2 linked regions of the Homo sapiens genome follow. The protein of the gene in region 2 interacts with the protein of the main gene of each other region in a pairwise test. Each region holds a gene or a part of one and is shown on either strand. Other genes may lie near its edges.

Region 1 (3,500 bases), on a different chromosome or scaffold from region 2:
CTAAATAACAGAGGCCACGCCCCATATCTTGTGGGACCACAGCTTGTCCAATCTTTTATTGGTGTTATCTAAGAATCCCAAGGAATGCTGGCATAGTCCATAAAATGTACCCTAATGAACAGCAGCTAACAATTACAGGGGGCTTCCTAGGTGCCAGGCATGTTCTTGGTTCTTTAAAAAATTATTTTTTGGCCAGGCATGGTGGCTCATGCCTGTAATCCCAGCATTGTGGGTGGCCAAGGTGGGTGGATTGCTTGAGTCCAGGAGTTCAAGACCAGCCTGGGCAACATGACGAAACCCCATCTCTACAAAAAATACAAAAATTAGCCAAGCGTAGCGGCACATAGCTGTAGTCCCAGCCACTGGGGAGGCTGAGGTGGGAAGATCACCTGAGGCTGCGAGGTTGAGGCTGCAGTGAGCTGTGATTGCACCACTGCACTCCAGCCTGGGCAACAGAGTGAGACCCTGTCTCAAAAAAAATTATTAAAAATGTTAGTTTTTGAATGGGAAATAAATTCTCAAGGTTCAACATTCAAAAGATCTAGAAGGTTATAGAGTGGAAAGTCTCACATCCACTCCTATTCCCTAACCACCCAGTTCCCATCTCAAGTTTGCCAATATTACCAGATTTTACATATCTTTCTGATGATATTCTATGTATATACAGGTTCACTATCTCTTATCTGAAATGCTTGGAAAAGCAACTCTGCCTACCTTCTTAGTGAAGCATTTTACCCCCTCAGCCTTCCAAATGTCTCCCTTCTAGAAGAGGATGTAGGTTTTACATATACATAACCAAAAGGTTCATGGGAGTGCTGTTTTTCCACGAATAGCCTCCTAAAAAGGAAGAGTCTTGCCCCAAATTAAACTCTGTACCTATCTCTAGTACACAGAAAATTAAGAGCACTTTTGAAATGGTGGAATCTAGGGCTGGTCGTGGTGGCTCACACCTATAATCCTAGCACTCTGGGAGGCCAAAGTGGGGGGGTAGCTTGAGGCCAGGAGTTCAAGACCAACCTGGACAACATAGCAAAACCCTGTCTCTATTTTAGAAAGAAAAGTTAAAAAAGAAAGAAAGAAAGAAAGAAATGTTCTGTGGAATATCATATTAAAAGAGTAATACGAGAAAATTAAATATTTTTTTTAAAAAAGAAATGGTGGGATCCAGCTGTGTCATATTTCGAAAACACTGGCATCTGACCTCAGCATGCCCAATTAGCAGAATGTGATGAGGGGATGGAGAAACCTTGGGAGAGGTAGGGAGGGAGAAAAAATGGGCCCAACTTTTCTGGAGGACAATTTGGCAATACCTGCCGAAAGTTTTAAAAGCATTGCTGGCCAGGTGCGGTGGCTCACACCCGTAATCCCAGCACTTTGGGAGGCTGAGGCGGGCAGATCACCTGAGGTCAGGAGTTCAAGACCAGCCTGGCCAACATGGTGAAACCCCATCTCTACTAAAAATACAAAATTAGCCGGGTGTGGTGGTGCACACCTGTAATCCCAGCTACTTGGGAGGCTGCAGAAGGAGAATCGCTTGAACCCCAGAGGCAGAGGTTGCAGTGAGCTGAGATGGCACCATTGCACTCCAGCCTGGGTGACAAGAGCAAAACTCCATCTCAAAAAACAAAACAAAAAAAGAAAGCATTGCTGTCCTTCAACCCAGCAACTCCACCTCTAGGAATGTTTTCCTGAAAAGAATAGCCAAGGGTGCTCACAGGAGGTGGTCATTATAATGGCAAAACCCTGGAGACAACTTGATGCCCAATAGAGTTTAATCCATCGCAGGACCCATACATAACGAAATACAACACAGCCGTGAAATAGATGGTGCAGACTCTGTGTCTGACATGGAGAGATGGCCAGTTTTGCCACTAGGAGAAAAAGGCACAGAGAATTTTGTTGGAAATAAAATCAATCGAAAGCAACTTCCAGCTTTATCTGACTCCCTCAGGCCTCTCCTGGCAGACTTGTATATTTTCTTCTCTTGATGTAATCTCCTAATTCTGCTCCCAGTTAGCCAGGCTCTACCCCAACATGAACCTGGAACTCCAGGGATCAGTGCCCTCTGCTCCGCTCCTGAACTTCAGCCCTGGGAATCTGTCTGTGGACCCCTATATGGAGATAGATGCCTTTGTGCTCCTGCCCAGCTCCAGCAAGGAGCCTGTCTTCCGGCTCAGTGTGGTAAGGTTCAGAGCCTTTGCAAATGCTGTTTCCTTTTCCCCACATGCTTTTCCCTTTTCCCCACATGCTTTTCTCCCCACTCACCACCTGGGTAATTCCTCCAGGTCTCAACTTAAATATTACTTCCCGAGAGAGGGCTTTCTTGCTGGCCCTTACCCCCAATCTACCTTACGCCCCTTGCCACTTTTTCTTGTAACACCCCATTATCTTTCTTCTCAGCGTTTACTACAAAGATACTTTGTAGCTGTCTGCAGGTGTATTTGTTTAATGCATGTATCTCTCACTATGTGAGTCTGGGCTATTGTGGGGAGAAAGGTATACTGGTGTTTGTCTATTTGTCTATTTTGACCTTGGAAGACTACATTTCCCAAGCTTCTTTGCACTTTGATTTCCACCCAGGTCAACCAATGGGAGGTACTGTCAGGAGAATGATGGCGGGGAGGAAGGATGAAGCCAGAGTACTATTTCCTCTTTCTTTACCACGGCAGAGGCTCTGGCTGTGACTATGTCTCCTCATGGTGACTTCCATAATTCCACCTCCACTCTTTGTTCCTCTAGTCCTGGGGTGGATACAGCCTCCTGTCTCTGGATAATCTCTGGGTGGCCTCACCAACTCTTTACTAGCTTCTCAACAATTCCATCACTTGTATAACCAATTCCCCGTATTAAATTCCCTCTGCGTTAAACATTGAGAGTCAGTTTTCCTTTTTTGATGGACTCTGTCTAATAGGGAAGGGATGTTGGGTCCTTTGGGGGCCTTGCTCCCTGGATGGAGAACTCTGCTCTCTTGTTTCTTGACTTTTGAAATCAACAAGTCAAATCTCTACCAGGGTAATTCTTCCTAGAGGCTATATCTGCAATTTAATATTGTTGTTATTGTTATCAAAAGTGTCATTATTAATATATTTTAAATTAAAATATAATTTACTGTCTGGGTGTGGTGGCTCACATCTGTAATCTCAGCACTTTGGGAGGTCAAGGCAGGAGAATCACACAAGGCCAGGAGTTTGAGAGCAGCCTGGGCAACACAGCAAGACTCCATTGCTACAAAAAAGAAAAAACAAATAGCCAGGCCTGGTGGCATGCACCTGTAGTCCTATCTACTCAGGGGGTTGATGTGGGAGGATCGCTTGAGCCCAGGAGATTGAGGCTGCAGTGAGCCATGATTGCACCACTGCACTCCAGCTGGGCGACAGACAGAGACTCCATCTCTAAAACAATAATAATAATTTATTAATGTTGTTACTAGGGCTGAATCTTGACCTGAGATAACTAGAAATGATCCTTTTTAGAGCTTTCCAAGGGTAGGTACTCTATAC
Region 2 (3,500 bases):
TTTAATGATAATTAGCATATTTTGATTATTTTTCTTGTCTCATATACTTCTGTTTTATTAAAATTGCTGCTACATACATATTTTGCTACATAAAGATTCATAGCTCTTCACTGAAAATCAAAATCTTTAACATATAAAGTACCCATTGTGTGTCATTTAATAATCTTGGTTCTGATGTCCAACTTATGGGATATTAAAATTATTATCTTTGGTTTTCTTTTGAATTTGCTTGGTATAATTTTATGCTGTCTTTTATTTTTAATCTGTCTGAAACACTTTTAGGTTTGTCTCCTGTATATAACAGAGCTGAATTTTCTCCAATTAAAAGCTGTTTTTCTTTCATTAGGAGTTTACATTTATTGATGTGAGTGATACTTATAGACTTGGTTTTATCATATTATTTCATATTTTGTTATATATGTATGTGTATATTTATTTTCTATTAAAAATATATGGTGGTATTTAGGAAGGTTCAAAATTTGTTTCTAGTGGTGACCTATATACATTTAAATTTATATAATATCATTATTCCTCTTTATCTTTAGACAGTTTAAATTGGTTCCTTGTTATAAACAACAATAAACTTATCTTGTATTCTTACCCCTCCTTCACCCCTTCTATCTTCCCTACCAGTAAATTTGTATCATTTGTATTATCTTAGTGTTTATTTTGTATTTAACATTAATGTGAAATATTCATATGTGTCTATGGTTGCTTTCATTCTCAACTTTGCAAATGATCAGGCAATAAGGGAATTTATTTTACCCTCTCTTCCCTGTCTCTATTTTTTCTTAGTTATACTATTTCAGTGCTGTCTGAGCATATAACATTTATATTTCCTTCAGTCACACTTAAAATCACATTTGTTTTTTCTTAGATCTGCATGTACAATGTTTGCTACCATTTTTGTTTATTTTGGCTAAAGTTGCCATTGTCATCTCTTGGTTGGCTGTAGTTTGTCCTATGGTGGTTTCCAAAAAAAAGTCCCAAGTGAAAATTATTCTTTGAGTTCTTGCAGGTTCAGATAATATATCTGAGGCATTGATACCTAGAAGATAATGGGGCTTGATATAGTCCTTGGCTCATCCTTTCTTTTCTTGGATGTCTTATAGGTACTGCTGCACTATCTTTTGCTAGTGAATACTACTGATCTGAAATTTCTTCTCATATGGCTTGATCTTTGTTTGACTATCTAAATTATTATTCTTTATCTTTGAAACCTAATACTTTTACTCTTAGTTGTTTTGGTAGAAATCACTTGGTTTAATTTTTTGCTACTATGTGATGTGCAATTTTAATATGTAGATTGACGTATTGTTTTATTTTAGTAACATTTACTTGAAATATATATATTTTTTGAGTCAAGGTCTCACTCCCTTTGCCCAGGCTGGAGTGCAGTGGCACGATCATAGCTCACTGCAGCCTCAACTTCCTGGGCTCAAGCAATCCTCCCACCTCAGCCTCTCAAGTAGCTGGGACTACAGGAGAGCAGCACCATGCCCAGCTGATTTTTGTATTTTTAATAGAGATGGGGTTTTGTCATATTGGCCAGGCTGGTCTTGAACTCCTGGTCTCAAAGAATTCACCTGCCTCAGCGTCCCAAAGTACTGGTATTACAGGAGTAAGCCACCACACCTGGCCTGAAACAAATTTTTAAAAAGCTATTTTGTTCTACTTGGATTCCTTCTTTAGGTTATCCAATTAAGCCTATGTTGATTCTCTTTTGCTTGTTACCTATATCTATTAGTTTTCTCTTATCTTTTCCGTTTGTTTCATTTTTGTTGATTTTCTCATTTTTATCCTCTGTTTTCCTTATTGTGTATGGCTTCCATAAGGGAAAGTGAAAAGAATCAGAACTAAGATGCTGTTGAAACACTAAGGTGTTCCCATTGAAACAACCAGAAACAATATTTTGCACTTAGTCTCTGGGCTAGGTTGGAAAAACTACATTTTAAAGAAATTTTAAAGTAAAGAAATACTTAATTGTAGTTGTAGTTGAGATATATTTTCTTGAAGTTATTATTCAATAAATTCCACAGGCTCTTAGATTGCTGAAGGTGACATTTGCTTTAGTGTTCTATCACATTGTAAGTTTATTCCTTGATGATGCTACAATTTGATATCATTGATGATTATCAATATCCTTGATGATGCTACAATTTGTAATCATTCATATCTTTTGTTTTTTTCTGTTAGCATAAGATAGAGGGCAGGAAGACGAACTGAGGAAAGAGTAGGACATATCAAGAGCCGTAAAAATGGAAGTGGTGAACTGAAAGCTAATGATGTATGGGAATAAGACACCCACCTGGAAGTCAGAGGAAGCTTCAAGCCAAAGATGGGGAGATTGTGGACTCAGTAATCTAGCTGGTACTCTCACCCAGAGACAACCACAGAACACGCTGAAGCCAGCCTTTTATTGTTGTGCTTGAGCTCTGGATGAACTGCATTCCTGATCCCTAGTAGATGCTCAGTAACAGATTAAGGAATGAGGGTCCAAAGGAAAAAACACACGCATCTCATTGCAGTAATGAAATTTTACTGAATGGAGTGCTTAATGGGAAATGATATCCAAGAACATATGATTTCCTTATTTTAATATTGAGTAACAATTCTATTTGCTCAGACCTCTTTAATTTAATTTAGGGTAGGAGGAATTCCATTAAAATCTTTGATCTATCTTATTCAGATTTTTCTTAATTGGCTCAACCACTAGTCGTTGTGAAGTCCAAGATAGAGGAGTTGGCTGGAGTCATCCTCTCCCACAATGTGAAAGTAAGTAAAGACTCTTCTGACTTGACTATCAATTTAAACTCTGTTAGGTAATAAAGTCCCTGTGCATCTTTACAGGTATGTGTACCTTCCATTAGAATTTGCATGAATTTTAGATTTATCATGATGCCTTCGCTGAGTATTTCTTTCTCTTCACTCACTTACCTCAGTTGTCAAGTGTAAGCCTCCTCCAGACATCAGGAATGGAAGGCACAGCGGTGAAGAAAATTTCTACGCATACGGCTTTTCTGTCACCTACAGCTGTGACCCCCGCTTCTCACTCTTGGGCCATGCCTCCATTTCTTGCACTGTGGAGAATGAAACAATAGGTGTTTGGAGACCAAGCCCTCCTACCTGTGAAAGTAAGTCATAATGATGAATTCTGCATCAAAATGTTTGCTCTCTTTTGTTTAAAAGAGAAAGAAAGGTAAATTTATTGGGGGGCAAATGGAAAATTCAAAGATAAACTAACTATCGCTCTGATGCAATCATTTATTTGGCCACCTGATACTTATTGCATGTTTGTTTAGAATATAAAAGCCATAAAAATGGGAGTGGTGAACTGGGAGCTAACAGTATATGGGAACAAACAGCAACAACATCTCACTGGTTTGGTGAAGTAAAAGTTTATTCTCATTTACACTGAGTTTGTTCCATGTCCAGGAGACTCTCCAGGGCAGCCGTAGTCTGTGTTAGCTTAGCAACTAGCTCAGCAAGCCAGGTTGCTT

The links.
Region 1: the proteins of C4BPA (region 2) and LBP interact in a two-hybrid assay, tested with the Homo sapiens proteins (one large-scale study listed by BioGRID and IntAct).

Annotation. Positions count from the first base shown.
Region 1 is NC_000020.11:38,366,982-38,370,481, forward strand, and holds part of LBP (lipopolysaccharide-binding protein precursor), read left to right. Parts: intron 1-2,013; coding exon 2,014-2,181; intron 2,182-3,500. UniProt on the Homo sapiens protein: Plays a role in the innate immune response. Binds to the lipid A moiety of bacterial lipopolysaccharides (LPS), a glycolipid present in the outer membrane of all Gram-negative bacteria.
Region 2 is NC_000001.11:207,121,233-207,124,732, forward strand, and holds part of C4BPA (C4b-binding protein alpha chain precursor), read left to right. Parts: intron 1-2,689; coding exon 2,690-2,775; intron 2,776-2,942; coding exon 2,943-3,134; intron 3,135-3,500. UniProt on the Homo sapiens protein: Controls the classical pathway of complement activation. It binds as a cofactor to C3b/C4b inactivator (C3bINA), which then hydrolyzes the complement fragment C4b.